Linked DNA regions of Homo sapiens: region 2 is linked to region 1. The links come from fine-mapping of genetic effects on gene expression. Tissue or cell type: whole blood. Region 1 holds a variant in brackets; the other region holds the start of a gene. All regions are shown on one strand. Distances are between the middles of the regions.

The links. PIP is the estimated chance that this variant, and not a neighbour inherited with it, causes the effect.
Region 2: PPP2R2B starts here. The variant in region 1 is fine-mapped to the expression of PPP2R2B in whole blood (INTERVAL, PIP above 0.99).

Annotation. Positions count from the first base shown.
Region 1 is chr5:146,703,159-146,711,263 of GRCh38, reverse strand. All of the region lies in intron 2 of PPP2R2B (protein phosphatase 2 regulatory subunit Bbeta), which reads left to right. It also overlaps the pseudogene KRT8P48. Among named protein-coding and RNA genes, the nearest start is that of PPP2R2B-AS2, 140 kb to the right of the region's middle. The variant C/T (reference allele first, on the strand shown) is at 4,849.
Region 2 is chr5:146,875,626-146,883,730 of GRCh38, reverse strand. PPP2R2B (protein phosphatase 2 regulatory subunit Bbeta) reads left to right here and starts at 4,974. Exons shown (of 10, transcript NM_181675.4): 1 at 4,974-5,140; 2 at 5,536-5,729. The coding sequence starts at 5,660.

The DNA.
Region 1 (8,105 bases):
CTTGATGACTTGTGAGCATAGAAAAAAAAAGATTGAGAAGCATCTGTTATATACTAAGAGACTCAGCTAGGCACTGAGGGTTTAGTGGTGAACAAGTTCCTTGTGAAGTTTACAATGAAGAGACTGAAACAGGCATATAAATGATTCTAATATCATTGTGATAAATGCTAATGATTAGTGGTGATAACTTATAAAGGCAAAGTATGGGGAGCAATGAGGCTGCATAATAAAGGGAGCTGTGTTGGGCTTAAAAGAAGTCACACAGGGCTTCTTAAGGAAGTGATACCTGAGCCAGTCCCAAAATATGGGGAATTTTAGCTTCCACAAAGTGGATACCATGTCTTACTGACTTCAGAACATCTGGCAAAGCAAAATTTCTGACCAAACATGTGCCAGATGCCATAATATGTGTGTTTGGGTAGCAGGTAGCACAGGGCCTGCCCAAGAACTCCCATTCCCCCACAGATGTGAGAACTTTCTCATTTTGGACCTGGAGTCCTGCTGACTTTGGGGTCAGCCATAGATGTCCCATGTTGTGCGGATAATAGATCTGAATGATTGACAGAGTTTGTATTGCCTGAGCAGTTAATTACTCCTCTGCTTTTTGAAAAATTGGGTGACAGATGGTAAACACCTTGACAGCAGATTCCACTGTAAACCACACAGGCATGTAGGCAAGTCTGGACTGCTATCAATTTCCCACTGGATTTTTCTGTACTCAGAGACTTATAATTTTTAAGACTCCTTTGCCCTTTAGGCAAGTTTTGTTCCAACTATGGGAAAATTTTATCTTCTAGGCTTCTATGTTGCAGGAACTTGTTTTGAATAAAAGGCAATCTTTATCAACCCACATGTCCTTGGGTTGATTCAAACCTGTTTAGTGTTGGAGATTTGGTCAGCCTGGGGAAGCTGTGTGCATTTTAAGGGGAACAGCATGGCATTCATTACTCACCTGCTTCCCACCATCTGGATTTTCACAGCTCAGCAAGCATGGTGGGCTTCCTGCATATTAGCAGGGAAAGCTTGGCTCCTAAAGAGGGTGTGGCTAGGTCCCTCTGAAGTCATAATTTTACAATGAACACCATGAATAAATTGGGGTTGGCATTCTATCCCAGTAAGCTGCTTTCATATCTGAATGGTTGAAAAATAATACACCATCTCCACAGCAGGGGAAGGAGGAAAAACACAAATCATCTTAATACTAGGAATCAAGCAAGTGGGAAGGAAAATTGGTTGTGTGGTAGAGTAAAGTGGAAATGTGCATGTGAGAGTTTGTGCAAATATGTTGTAAGGCAAGGGAGTTTCCAACTCAACATGCATTAATAACCTGGCCCTGTGCAAAGTGCTATAAGGAAAACAAAGATGGAAAGACATGTATAGTAGCATGAATTTAGATGAATATAACAGAAAACTTACTAACAGTAGCTTAAACCACAGGGTTTAACAATTTCAGACATAGGCTGTCTTAAGGTAGGTTTTAGTTGTTCAACAGTGTCATCAAAGATATTGTCCCATTCTCCCATCTGTCATACTCAGCTTCTTAGCCTTTTAAAGTCCATAGGCTTATTACCTCATGGTCACATGATGGCTGCCACAGCCCCACGTATTATGAACACATTTAATTACAAACAAAGGCAGGAAGCAATGAAGAGTCCGGTCAGAAGGCCTTCCCTCACTTACTTCCTTTTATTCAGGGAAGAAAACTCTTTCCCAGAATCTCTGTCCCGCTCCTGCTTCCCCAGTAGACTTTCCTGTATGCCTCATTGGCCAGATCTGGGTCACACAATTACCCCTAGCCACAAGGGAGGCTAAAAAGCAAGTATGTGGGTTTTCCAGCCTCTACAGTGGGACAGTAGGAGGCAGGCAAGGAAGAAAGATTCTGAGTAGGAGTAGCCAACCAAGAGTATCTGCCATGACATAACACATGCCATTAATGGGCTTGATCTACAGGGTCAGACTGACATTTAAGCAGTGCCCATTTTTTAATACTGCACTTATGGTTAAGTAGGAAACAGCCATTGTGATAAGAGCTTGGGACTTGGAGCTATTGGACCCTTCTATCTGTATTCTTTCATCTAAGAGGTAAACCAGCACCAGGTTGAAGATAAAACCAGTATGCACAGAATTAATTAAATGAAAGGAAGAATATTCAGTATCCAAATACTAGACACTGATTGGATGACAGAGGAAACAATTCTGGATCAAACAGAACGTATTACACACAGTAGGTCAAGGATAGCAAGCATGTGGCATGTGTAATCAGAACTGTGTATTTACTACTTCTGTCTTTAGTACCAAACTAAATGAGTGTGAGAAGCAGTGTCAAGTTAAGAAGGTAACGCTACTGAATCAGGAACTCAAACATAGTTCCATTTAGACAAGGGCATAGGTGAAAAGGTAGAATACTTCATGGATAACGTAGCTTGGATGCAGGTTGGCAAAAGTGTATTGATGAATTTTTTTTAGCTCCATACCATCCAAACAGAATCCCAAATAGTAATAACATCTAGACAGAAAGATTAAAAAAAATCTTTGACTCTGTGTACTAAGAAAATAATTATTGGTGCCAAATCAAGTTGAGTCATATCAATAGAGACACTGTATCTACACAGCATTTTTAACTCTTACAAGCTCTTATATCTATCAGTTCATTTTATTCCCATAATTTTACTTCTTTTGGAAGAATTGTCCACTAAAAAGAGCAGTATGAAGGAACTTTCTGGGGTCAATGGAATTGTTCTATATCATGATAGTGGTTATGGATACATATCTCTATGCATTTGTCAAAACCTTTAGAACTGGATGCCACAAAAAGTGAATTTTACACACACACACACACACACACACACACACACATACACACACACATACATAGATATACAGATATACAGTGTTTTTTTTTTTTTTGAGACCAAGTCTGGCTCTGTCGCCCAGGTGTGAGTGCAGTGGCATGATCTCGGCTCACTGCAACCTCTGCCTCCCAGGCTCAAGTGATCCTCCCACCTCAGCCTCCCAAGTAGCTGGGACCACAGACATACACCACCATGCCGAGCTAATTTTTTTTATTTTTGGTAGAAATGGTGTTTCACCATGCTGCCCAGCCTGGTCTCGAACTCCTGAGCTCAAGGGATCCACCTGCCTCAGCCTCCCAAAGTGCTGAGATTATAGGCGTGAGCCACCGTGCCCAGCCTATATATAAATTTTAAATTTTTAAAAAGTTTTAAAGCTGCTGAGATGAGTGCTAAAATCTTTCATTCAGTTTGAAAACAAATTAAAATTGTTTACAAGTTAAAAATTGTTCAAGTATTTATGGTTATGGCAAAATATAGAAAATACCGAAGATTTAGAAAAAGACCATAAGAAAATAAATTATGTACGTTCTACACCAAAAAGTACAATTTTGGATTCTCTCTGATAAACTTTTGTCTATAGAGAGAGAGTGTGTGGGTATGTGTAGTCATTAACAATTACTTGTAGGAGAGTCAGATTGTAAAGGAAACTTAGTTTTATATTTTAAGTGCCACCTTGTCATTAACAGAAGTTTCTGTAAGTGTACATATTGCTTTACCTGTTAGAAAAGATATATTCTACCAAGAAGCAGCTTCTCCACTCCTTCTGGAATCTCCGCCTGGTTCAGCCCGCCTGCCTCCACTCCTGCCTCCACCATGTCCATCAGGGTGCAGAAGTCCTACAAGGTGTCCACCTCTGGCACCCGGGCCTTCTGCAGCTGCTCCTACACGAGTGGGCCTGGTGTCTGCATCAGCTCCTTGAGCTTCTCCTGAGTGGGCAGCAGCAGCTTCCGGGGTGGCCTATGGTGGGGCCAGTGGCATGGGAGGCATCACTGCCGTCCCAGTCAACCAGAGCCTGCTGAACCCCCTTAACCTGAAGGTGAACCCCAACATCCATGCTGTGTGCACCCAGGAGAAGGAGCAGATCAAGACCTTCAACAACAAGTTTGCCTCCTTCGTCGACAAGGTACGGTTCCTGGAGCAGCAGAACAAGATGCTGGAGACCAAGTGGAGCCTCCTGCAGCAGCAGAAGACGGCTGGGAGCAACATGGACAACATATTCGAGAGCTACATCAACAGCCTTAGGCGGCAGCTGGAGACTCTGGGCCAGGAGAAGCTGAAGCTGGAGGCGGAGCTTGGCAACACGCAGGGGCTGGTGGAGGACTTCAAGAACAACTATGAGGATGAGATCAATAAGAGTACAGAGACGGAGAATGAATTTGTCCTCATCAAGAAGGATGTGGATGAAGCTTACATTAACGAGGTAGAGCTGGAGTCTTGCCTGGAAGGGCTGACGATATCAACTTCCTCAGGCAGCTGTATGAAGAGGAGATCCGGGAGCTGCAGTCCCAGATCTCGGACACGTCTGTGGTGCTGTCCATTGACAACAGCCGCTCCCTGGACACGGACAGCATCATCGCTGAGGTCAAGGTACAGTACGAGGAGATCGCCAACCGCAGTCGGGCTGAGGCCGAGAGCATGTATCAGATCAAGTATGAGGAGCTGCAGACGCTGGCTGGGAAGACCTGCGTCTTACAAAGACTGAGATCTCTGAGATGAACCGGAACATCAGCTGGCTCCAGGCTGAGACTGAGGGCCTCAAAGGCGGGAGGATTTCCCTGGAGGCCGGCATCGCAGATGCGGAGCAGCGCAGGGAGCTGGTCATTAAGGATGCCAACGCTAAGCTGTCCGAGCTGGAGGCCGCCCTTCAGCAGACCAAGTAGGACATGGCGCGGCAGCTGCGTGCCTACCAGAAGCTGATGAACATCAAGCTGACCCTGGACATCGAGATCGCCACCTACAGGAAGCTGCTGGAAGATGGAGAACATGAGTATCCATA[C/T]GAAGACCACCAGCGGCTATGCAGGTGGTGTGAGCTTGGCCTATGGGGGCCTCACAGGCTCTGGCCTCAGCTACGGCCTGAGCTCCAGCTCTCGCTCTGGCGCAGGTTCCAGCTCCTTCAGCCGCACCAGCTCCACCAGGGCCATGGTTGTGAAGAAGATCAAGACCCGAGATGGGAAGCTGGTGTCCTCTGATTTCCTGCTCAAGTGAACAGCTGCGGCAGCCCCTCCCAGCCTGCCCCTCCTACGGCTGCCCCAAAGCCTAGGAGGGAGGCTGCTGTGCAAGGAAGCACAGGGAACAGGAGACTTACCTGAGGCTCAGCCCTAGCCCTCAGCCCACCCGCGGGGGAGTTCACTGCCTGGGGACCCCCGCCCCTTGCCCATGCCTCCAGCCACAAAACAATTCAATTGTTTTTTGTTTTGTTTTGTTTTGTTTTTCTGTCCAAAATAAAACCTCAGCTAGCTCTGCCAAAAAAAAAAAAAAGAGAAAAGATATATTCTGAAATGAAAACACTTTGACAAAATTGCAATCATTTGACATAAACTGTTTTATTGACTGATTATTTTCTAAATTTTATGACATATTAACATCTTTCAACAAGGTCATCTTGGCATAATCCCAGTAGGAGTATTTGGGTTTGGCCATAACCAGACTTTTTTCCTATCCCCTCCCCAACCCCCTATTTGTGGAAAATATGCTCAAATGCACTATTTCAGTTACCAAAACTTGGTAAGTTACTTTGGTAAAGTAAACCTTATCAGAGAAAATGGATGCTGACTTTGGACCGTGATCCAGGACCCAAGAAGGAGACCACAGTTTTATATGGATGGGAGGAACAACTGTAATTCCCATCAGGACACCTAAGAATCCCGTTTGTTTAATGATCCACAAAGTAGTCATTGCCAGTCTAGCTAGAAGCCTCTGTGCTGGGATGACAAATGATACACATCCTACCTCCCCCACCACCCACCCAGATTCATTACCCATTAATCATGGCACCCCAGCCTAGAAGTGACCCCGCAAAACCTTCTCAACACAAACCTGGTAACTATGATCATTTCACCATTATCATTCACTATGAAATATATTTTCTGTTCTTATCTTAGCTGAAGGCGAAAACTACCAAAACCCAATCCAGTCATCAGAAATAAAGCCAGGTATTGAGTAGGCAGAACTAGTCAGCTGATGCAAGTAGGGTAAATGACTTTATGATATTATCTACCAAATGTTTCTTAGATGAAAGATAAAACATTTAATGGGCTCTGAAAACTAAATTGCATTACCCTTGCATTTCCATCTCTATGATTGATGTTGAGAGGTCAGTGCTAGTGACCTGGTCAGTAAGATATTCCATCTGTAGACTTTGAGTTTAGATCCTAAGTCTAAACTGAGTCTCCATTTTATCAAAACAGTCACCCTCCTATGTGAGTTGTATATCACCTAATAATCCAGGTGCCTGCCTCAACTCAATTCTCTGGCATTGCATAGACTCCAGCCTAGCATGATACTGCAAGAGACTAGGGATGAACTAGGAGATTCCTCTGTTTCCGTAAGCCTCACAATCATTAGCCTCACATGCGTATCATTGTTAAGTCAATATCTATTATTCAGGTAAATAATACTTTATGTATGAAATTACCAGTCTAGAACTTTTGTAGGATGCTGAGATTGATTTAAAAAAAAAATAATAAACTCAGCCTTAATAGTGCCTATTGAGCTAGAAATGGGGTTACCAGGCCACCATCTTGTGGAAATTAAATCAGCACAAATAGATTTGGAGCAAGGCAAACTTCACACTACCCAGGGTTTCCTTTAAAAATCACTTTAACTACATCTGACCTTTCTAGCTGTTTCTGGCTTTTGTTTTTAGTCATTGTGTACTTTATCCACATCTATATACAACAGAGGAAAAATGCTCAAGTTTGTAGTTTCTTGATCAACAGCATGATTAGGCTGAGCAGTTAATGAAATGTGGAATTGTCATATAAACTTACAATTTAAAGGTGAAAGCCATGTTGAACTTGATGAATTGATTTCTGTGGATCATGATTTCAAATGACGTTATTATCTCTAAACTTGCTACCTTATTACTACATCCTCTTACCATATCACAAAATTATTTTGTCTTGAGCAGTATATTTTCCAGTTTAAACTGCCTTACCAAAGAGCATGCTGCAAACACAAGAGTATTTGTATCAGAAGTTTCAGTATCTTGAAATTGGAATGTATAATGATTCATGAGTTTTGCATCAATTATTAAACAGTCATAGATGAAGATATGCAGAGATGGATGGGGCAGTAAAGTATTCCAGTTACACCTACTGGCTTAGCAATGATAAATGAGTCAGGAAACATGAAAGTTCAAAACAAGTATTAACTTGAGCTGCCACGGCTTATTCTCTGAAGGGAAGTAGACAATAGCATGATATAAACAGGTTCATGTACAGAGCAGCTGGCTAGTAGAATTAAAATAAAGGTAAGGACTCTGCAAGAGGGCTAAGGAATTTCAGAATCCTGCCATGCAAATCACCCTTTCTCTTACAAGGTTCTTGAGGGAGACATAGCATTGCAAAATAATAACACTTGGAAAACAAAGGAAATATTTGTATTACCTGGGACCATGCCTAATACTCCATAATGCAGAATTCTAATAATACTGGCTTAAATCATGTGACTTTGACTTCCACTTGAATCCTGCCTTGTTTTGACTTGCATGGGTCTTAAAGTGAGAGTAAAGACATTTTCAGAGTCTAGGAAGAAGGAAAATGTATGTGTCATCCCCTGGGAAAGCAAGTGTTGCCCTTGGAGTAATATCTTCTTGGCAACTGAGCCAAGAGCTCACACTGGGAAAAGCTACTTAACTCTCTTCTGATACCCAACTTCACCAAAAGGAAAGGCCCATCTTTAGTTCTCATTGTAAGGCCCTTGCAGCCCACCCAGAACTCTAGTGTTCTGCATTAATCACTGTCCAGTGAAAGGGCATAGACTGCATGTAAGCAGAACTTTAGAACGTAGCTCTGAGACAAGAGCCAGGCATTGTAAACCTCAGGCCTGGCTCCCACCACCCTCTCATTATTTCCTGCTACTCTTTCTTTCTGAGAAATGTTTGTATTTGAGCAGTTCAAGAGCCTTGAACTGGACCAGCCTTTGTACCTGACCAAAGACAAAAAGTGAAAAGCAATAGACATGCCCGCTTTAGGCTGTACCCAAATTTGGAAGCCCCATGAATAACCCTTTGCTAACCATTCATTGAAAAGC
Region 2 (8,105 bases), 170 kb before region 1:
GAATTGCAAACTTGCTAGAAATTCAAGAGGTCATTCTCTAGACAGCACGTAAACCACCTTAGAGAGAGAGTTGTGCAATTGGTGCTTAGTGATCATAGAGAGAAATTCCATATGATTCCACAATAGAGAAATGTGACTAGGTCTGCACATACATAATGAGAAAGTCCAAGAGAAGATAATCCTGATTCCTTTCATTTGCAGGAGACTTCATGGTTTATAAAGGGCTTTTTGCAAGATGATAAAATTTCATGTATCCAGTTTCTAATTGTTCATTAAGACAGATTGATAGGCAGTAAAACTGAGGTTTCTAGGTCACTTCTGTTCACATGAACAATTGACTTGGAGTGCATCTCTCCAATTCTCTGCAAGTGGGAGATCTCATGAAGTACCGCAGGAGGAAGAAGGGTCATTTTAGTGAAGGCTGGCTCTGAGCCAAACCTGGACTAAGCACTTTCCTTACCTCTGAAGCCACCCAACAACCCTGTGAAGTAGCAACTATTGTTTTCTTCCATTTTGCAAATATAGAGGTTCAGAGATGTTAAACTACTCACCAAAGGTCATGAAATTTATAAATGCCTGAGCTGGGACACAAACCAGGACTGTCTGACACCTAAAGCCTCTATTAAGAATCTCCAGACTGGCTTAGGTCAAAGGTTTTAATAAAATTATAGATATTTAATGTGCTAATTGGACAGGGTGACCCAAAAGTTTCCTGTGTAGGAAGCATTAGCCTAAGGAAGGAAGAGTGGGTATGTGAGTGTTGGGGGAGGGGACCATGACAAGGGTGGTTAAAAAAACGAATGTATCCACATGCTGTCAATACTGAACTGGGTAACATAAGAAGGCTGTGTATTTGTAATTGGCCTTTTCTATGTAAAGCACAAGCCTGAAATAGGTCAGTCTTTCAGAGTTCCCTCTGCTGCCCCCTTTGAAGACTATGGCCCCTTTTACATAAACTGTAAATTAGACACTAAGTTCCATGACATCAGAGACTGACTACATCTTATACACTGATGTTGCTGAATCTATAATCCTATCCCAGTGTCTGACATAGTTAAGTACTTGCACATTTGCTGAACATTGATGATGGTGATGATGACGAAAGTAAATACTCATAGTAATAGCAATGTATTTTTTCCACGTATTATCTCATTTAATCCTTGTAATAACTCTATGAAACAAATACTATTCATTTTCCTAATTTATAGATAAGAAAATGATGCTTTAGGGAGATCTTGTAACTTGCTTGAGGACAGAAAAATAAGTGACAGAAAATGATATCGGAGCCTTGGCACTTAACATTGCACTATAGTCTGTCGATATAGAATGCATTTGCTGTATTGCTAAGAAAGTTCACGTTATTAAAATTAGATGATAGAATTTAAGTTCTATGAAGAAAGAAATTCTGTTTTATATAAATCTATATCCTTGGCACCTAGAGCAATTCTTTTTTTTTTTTTTTCTTGAGAAGGAGTCTTGCTCTGTCTCCCAGGCTGGAGTGCAGTGGTGCGATGCAACCTCTGCCTCCCGGGTTCAAGCAATTCTCCTGCCTCAGCCTCCCGAGTAGCTGGGACTACAGGCGCGTGCCACCATGCCTGGGTAATTTTTTGTATTTTTAGTAGAGACAGGGTTTCACCATGTTAGCCAGGATGGCCTCGATCTCCTGACCTCATAATCTGCCTGACTCAGCCTCCCAAAGTGCTGGGATTACAGGTGTGAGCCACCACACCTGGCCAGAATAATTCTTTACATAATTGCTTGGTAAATTTTGATCGTATATATGCATACAGGAATAAATCGAACCAATTATTTCAATAGGAATACAGCTTATGAGCTAGAAAATTTCCAGCTCACAACAGATTATTTTAATATGAATTTTAAGAAGGGGGGAGGTATGAAACCTAAATATTAAAGTAAGATATTCAGCAATTTATTCATTTGTTTAAGAAATGTTTGTCTCCAACAAATATAATTAAGCATCTACTAAGTGACAGTTAGTCAATAGAAAAGATCTAGTGAGGCCAGGCATGGTGGCTCACGCCAGTAATCCCAGCACTTTGGAAGGCCCAGTCAGGTAGATCACTGAGGTCAGGAGTTTGAGACCAGCCTGGCCAACATGGCAAAACCCCATCTCTACTGAAAAATACAAAAATTAGCTGGGTGTGGTGGTCCATGTCTTAGTCCCAGCTACTCAGGAGTCTGACGCATGAGACTCACTTGAACCTGGGAGGCAGAGGTTGCAGTGAGCCTTGATCGTGTCACTGCAATCCAGCCTGGGTGACAGAGAGACTCTGGCTCAGAAAAATAAAATAAATAAAATAAAAAAAGAAAATAAAAATAAAAGATCTAGTGAAAATGGCCAACAATAATAAGTAAACAAATATTATAAAACGCTGTAGGACATGAAAAAGACAAAAAAAAAATGTGGAGGCAGAAAACACCGGAAGTCAGGACTATCGTGTGGTCAGGGAATGCCTCAACGAAGCAGGGACAGTTAAGAGGCTGAATGCCAAGACATGAGGAAGTGGCAAAGAACATAGCATGCGGAAATGCCCACCACTTTTGGAAAGAACTTGACATTTTAGAGGAAAAGAGAAGTGGCCAGTGAGTCTTTTGAAGACTGATCTCTGCAGCCTACTCCCATCTCCCCCACTCTCTCCCCCACCCCGCCCCCCAGCTCCACAGTGGTGCACAGGGCTCTTTTCACTCCCTTACCTCCACCACAGGTCGTTGTGTTATGGCACAGAGCCAACAGCTTTTTTCCCCTTGGTTTTGGGTGGATGAGCTAGTTCTCTCATATTAGAAAAGAGTAGTTGGCCAAATGGAAACCTTGAAATCTACTTAAACAATGGAGACCTATCCAATCTGCCTTCTCAGAACATGTGTCTTAGGAAAAATGCCTGGACTGTTGAATAAATGCAGGAGAAAGTTTGCAGCATATGTGAAAAGAAAAATAAATAAACCCAGAGACTCGATCTGTGGAAGGGACATTCTCCCCATTGGTTACAATGGAAAATTCCTCAAGCACAGCCTGGCCAATGAGCCTGGGCCTACCTGATTCATCACACAGCTCTGTCCCAATCTAGCCCTTGATTCAGAAAGATACAGGGGAAATTTTCCCAAATACTATTCCAAGGCCTCCTGAAACAATTTTAAGATCATTCCAACCGAAGGCACAATGTCTTCTCATCATTTTGATTCACTAAGAGATGAACTTAGCTTTTCCCCACTCTGCTCCTACTCCAAATTGTGCCAATATCCAAGAGAAGCTGCAATGTGTAACTACAAAAGGACTGAATGTTGGAACCTCGGTGATAGATACAGCTCATCCCATGGAAGAACCAGCCACGACAACTTGTACTGAAGTGGATTAAATCAACTTGTACCCGTCTTCACCTGTTACTAAAATTTTAAATGTGGATTTTGAACAAACAAGTGTATAAGTCTTAAGCACTAGATGAAAATAAAATAGAATCTATTGAAAGTTGAACTGAACTCCCCCCACCACACACACACACACACACACACACACACACACACACACACACACAAAATAACTATGTCAAGGAACATTTCTGCTCTTTTCTCCCAGGGATATGCAGTCAATTTCTGGAGATGAGGAAGATGTCATTTTCTATCTACCAGAAGTATCCATACTGCATGGAAATCTAATGACAATTCCCAACCTCAGTTAAGGACTTGTTTTTCCATTTTTCTGAACTTCAAATACTTTCTAAATTGTGTTAGCCGAAGCATTGTATGTATATAATTAACTCATAGGTCCCTCTGGGCCCATCTAGCTAAACTTGTGGAGCTTAACTGAGCAAAACATTTGCTGATGTCTCTCCCTACAGTGGTACCCATTGAAATGAATACCTTCTACAAGATGAAACCTAGGAAATGTCGTTTCCAATTGGCTTTCTACTGATTGGGGTTGATGTCTTTTCCAAATTGGCTTTCTAGTGATTTGGGTTGCTTCATTAAATGTTTTTGGTTGTTTCATAACAATAGTAATCTCATTTTCTTTCAAAAGTAGAGTTTGAAATTTGGGAAAACATGGGTGGGGAGGGAATTCTACATTTTCTTCCTAGTTGAAGTAGGAAGACAGGTCTCTTTTCTGTATTAATTGGACTCCTGAAATTCCCCCAGGGTAGCAGTGGCTCTCTGTGGGCACAGGGCTCTTATGCTTATGTTTCTGTGCTTCAATGTACCTTCCATGCTGACAGCAAATAGAAGGTGTTCCTGCACAAGCAAAACCTAACGGAGAGGCTGCAATAATTTGTCCAAAACGAAGTGCAAACTGCAAGGGAGAGTGGACTTTTTCAGACTGATCCTGTTTACTAGTCTGGTGCTTTCCTCCACCTGTGTAGACACAGATGCTTTATTGAACACCAGCCTCCTACAGTTAGAAGGTATTTTGACTCTTAGGAATGGGGGAACCAGTTGCAAAGTTCTGGCCCCTGATCCCCCTCCTATTCCTACTAGAGGGCTTAAGATAGGCTCTGAGCGGCACTTCCCACTTTCTCCTCTTTTTCTGAAGCTTCGAGCCCCAAACCTCGCCCTTTAAATTCACCAAGGGACCACATGCATCATATAAGGGTGAGGAAAAGGGACCTGGATGTAGACTTCCTGACTATCCAAAGGAACCTACTTCTCTTTGCTGTTCTCAAGTTCAGGCGTCCGGAGAAAGGCAGGGAGCTAGGGGCTCTGGGTGCTAGCGTAGACGTGGCCCTTAGCTGAGTGGCGCGAGAGGGGAGGAGGTTGGAAGAGCGCGTCTATGCGTTCCACCTGAACCTGCAAGCTAGTCGCTTGCTGCCCAGGTGCCGATTCGCGGCTGCATGCGCCCCACTGCAGCAAAGAGCAGCCGCAGCCTCTGCCTCGGCCACCACTGCTGCTGGGAAAGAGTCGTGGGGCTGCTGACGCGGTTGGGAGGAGCCTCGCCTTTAATGCACCAGCCGCCTCCAGCCTCCTGCAGCAGCAGCAGCAGCAGCAGCAGCAGCAGCTGCGAGTGCGCGCGTGTGGGTGTGAGGGTGAGTGCGCTGGCGCCGGCTGCAGCGCCCTGCCCAGCTCCCCGCCAGCTTCCCTACCCCCGCCTGCCGGAGCCGCCCTCCCGTGGGACCAGCACCCTCATTCCGGCCAGGCAAGCCTGAATCCTGTCCCTGCCATCTCGCCACTGCAGCTCGGGTCCAGAAAGGCACCATTTTGTCGCGGCTGCCCGCTCTCCCAGGGGGAGGAGGGATCTTTTTTGCATTTTGGAGCGGCTGCCAAGGAGGGGAACCTGTTGGGCATCTCCCCAGACCCGCTTGTGAGCGCCTCCGGGGCGGGCGGGCGGGACCAGACCCCTCGGGGCACGGCGTATCTTGGCACCCGGAGGCAGCGGAGGCAGGCGCAGCATCCTCGCTGGGAACTGGAGCTGGAGTGAGCGCACCGCGCGGGAGGAGCCGCCGCAGCCTCGCAGAACCCGAGTGGAGGAGGTGACAGCTCCATTGCCGGGTTTTTATTTTTTTTCTCTCCGCCTCCCCGTCTCCTCCTCAGGCTCGGACCATGGTGCAGTCCCACTGGCTCCCCTGCCCCCCTCTCCTGTGAGACTGGCTGCGGGGAGGGATCATGGATACTTGTCTGCCGGCTTCTGGTTCCCACGCAAGTAAGCCTGCTGTCAATGGAGGAGGACATTGATACCCGCAAAATCAACAACAGTTTCCTGCGCGACCACAGCTATGCGACCGAAGGTAACGCCAGCCCCGCCGCATTCCGCCGTTGGGGCCGGGCGCAAGTTGCGGATCACTGTGCTTCCTGGGCAGCTGGGCGCGTAGTGGCGGAGACTCCTCCGGGCCCTAGGGCTGGGGCGGGGGCTCGGCTGGCCCCGGCAGCCCCAGTGCACCTCGCATCCATCCGGGCTCCGCGAGGCGAGCTCGGCGTTCAGCAGCAGGTGGACCCGGCGCCCACGGGAGTTAAAATGGCCCTCAGGGATTAGGCTTTTTCAGGGTGGGGCTCTCGCCCAGAAAGATGACCCCAGGAAGGCAGATGACCCCTTCCCCGAGATGTTCGCAGGGGTCTTGGGGGGAGATAAGAAGGGAGGGGCCCAGTAGGACCTTGGTCCCCCCTCCCTGAGCGAAACGATGTTATGTCTCTCAGTGGCTGCAGGGAGGGCAAGGTTTCATTTCCTGCCCATTCATCTCCCCGGCCGGCCAGGTTACCTGCTTAGACAATCAAAACCCCAAAAAGCCCTTTGCAGACGGGCGAACCTCTTTCCTTTTGGAAGTGCATTAGCAAAAATAAAAAGGTGGCTGGGGAAATAGTGCTCTGGCGGGCAGCGAATGAGGCTGACACGTGGGGTGAGCAACGCGATCGGTGGGGCCTTTAAAAATCACCATTATGAATTCTGCAGCAGTAGTTTCTGCTGAATCAACAGCCAGCAGAAAGCAAAAGGGTTCAGCAAGCTGAGCTTTGCCAAGAGGTGAAATTGTCGTCTCTCCCTCTCTCCCAGCTTGTTCTGACATAAGCACTAGTGCTGTGCGGGCAGGAAGGGAAAGTCAGCAGGTGGAATCTCATTCTGCCTTTTGTGTGTGAATAGAGAGTAGAGGCATTTTTTTCCCCCAGTGCCAAAACTTTTGCATTTTTGCTTTCATTTTCTACCTGTAGGCCTTTTATCCTTAGCCACTCATACAAAGTGTTGCATTATCACATTGTAATATCCATGCGAGAAAATGTATGTGGAAATGCTTTAGGACAATGTTGCAAGGTGTATTAATTTAAAATTATTATTCTTGGATGCTAACATTTCTGTAATATTTAATCAAATCAAAAGACTGCTAGAGAAATGTGATGGGGGGAGTAAAAGAGTTCAAGCTCTGAAAGAAATAAAAAGACACACACACATCTGGGGGTAAAGGTGGCATCTTCTATAAACATCCCTGGAAGTTCTAGACAGAAAGAATGTCCAGTGCTATTGAAAGTATATTCTCCATTTGTCATCATTTTTGGAGAGCATCAAGCCCAGTATGCCCATGGTGCTAGACAGATAAAGCAGAGTTGTAAGCTCTGGCTTCCAGGAGCTTAGAGATGGCTTTTAAGATGTGCAGCCCATCCCTCCCCTATACAGAGCACCATACTTACCGATTCTTTTTCTGTGCATGATGGCAACCTGATTGTAAGATGTTCTCCCTCAATCTTAGTGCTTTGTCACTGACTCAGTGACCTGATAGCACATGACTAACTCTGTATCTAAGCATGTCATCCAAGAGAGAAGTTGGCCTTGGGTCTGTTGGCTTTTGGGGGAACATTTATTTCTGTTTGTAACCACAAAGAAAGAGAGCTGCCTTCATGTTTTCTTGTATATTACATTATGCAGGCAAGAGAAACTTAGCAAGCTGAGAAAATGCCCAGAGTGGAGCTATGTGTACAGGAGTGTCAATTGTGAAGTGAAGAAATCAGTTAAAAATGGCATTCTTTATTGTTTTCAGGGCCCTGGATATTACCGTTGTTCTTATTTTTATTCCATTTTTGAAAACTCTGATTCTGGATAGAATATCTAGGTTCACATAGTCAAAAATAGATATGAGTTTATAGCAATGAGATTTCTGGCATGTGAGAATCAACCTCTCAGATTTCTTTCTCTTTCTCAAACACACACACATACTAATCACACTCAAAACTAACAAACCTTTATTTCACAGAAGCTTCTAGGTTTTAAAATCTGATCTTAGAGAAGGTATGAAAAGAAAAGGAAAATAGAACTTAAACGATGTAAATACCAGAAGTTGGATAGAACAAGAAGTTCCCTACAGTTTTGACCTATTCGTTTCAGGGAAGATTCATGCAATTTTGTTGCCAGAGGGGGAAGAGTCCCTGTTCTTCCAATGAATTCCTTAAGAAGTGTTAGTATACCTTGAAAAAGCACCAGATCAAAAGACTTTTTAAAAATTCTCCTCACTGGGGACTTGCCCCACAAGTTTTCTTCCCCCTTATTAACTTATACCCTCTTACTGGGTGGGGAATTAGCTTCTAGTCCTTCCATAGATCTTGCTTTTCTGTTTCCTTTACTATTTCTACATTTTCCTCCTACCTGCTCAGTTATGTCAGATTGTTCTTTTTTTTCCTCCAAA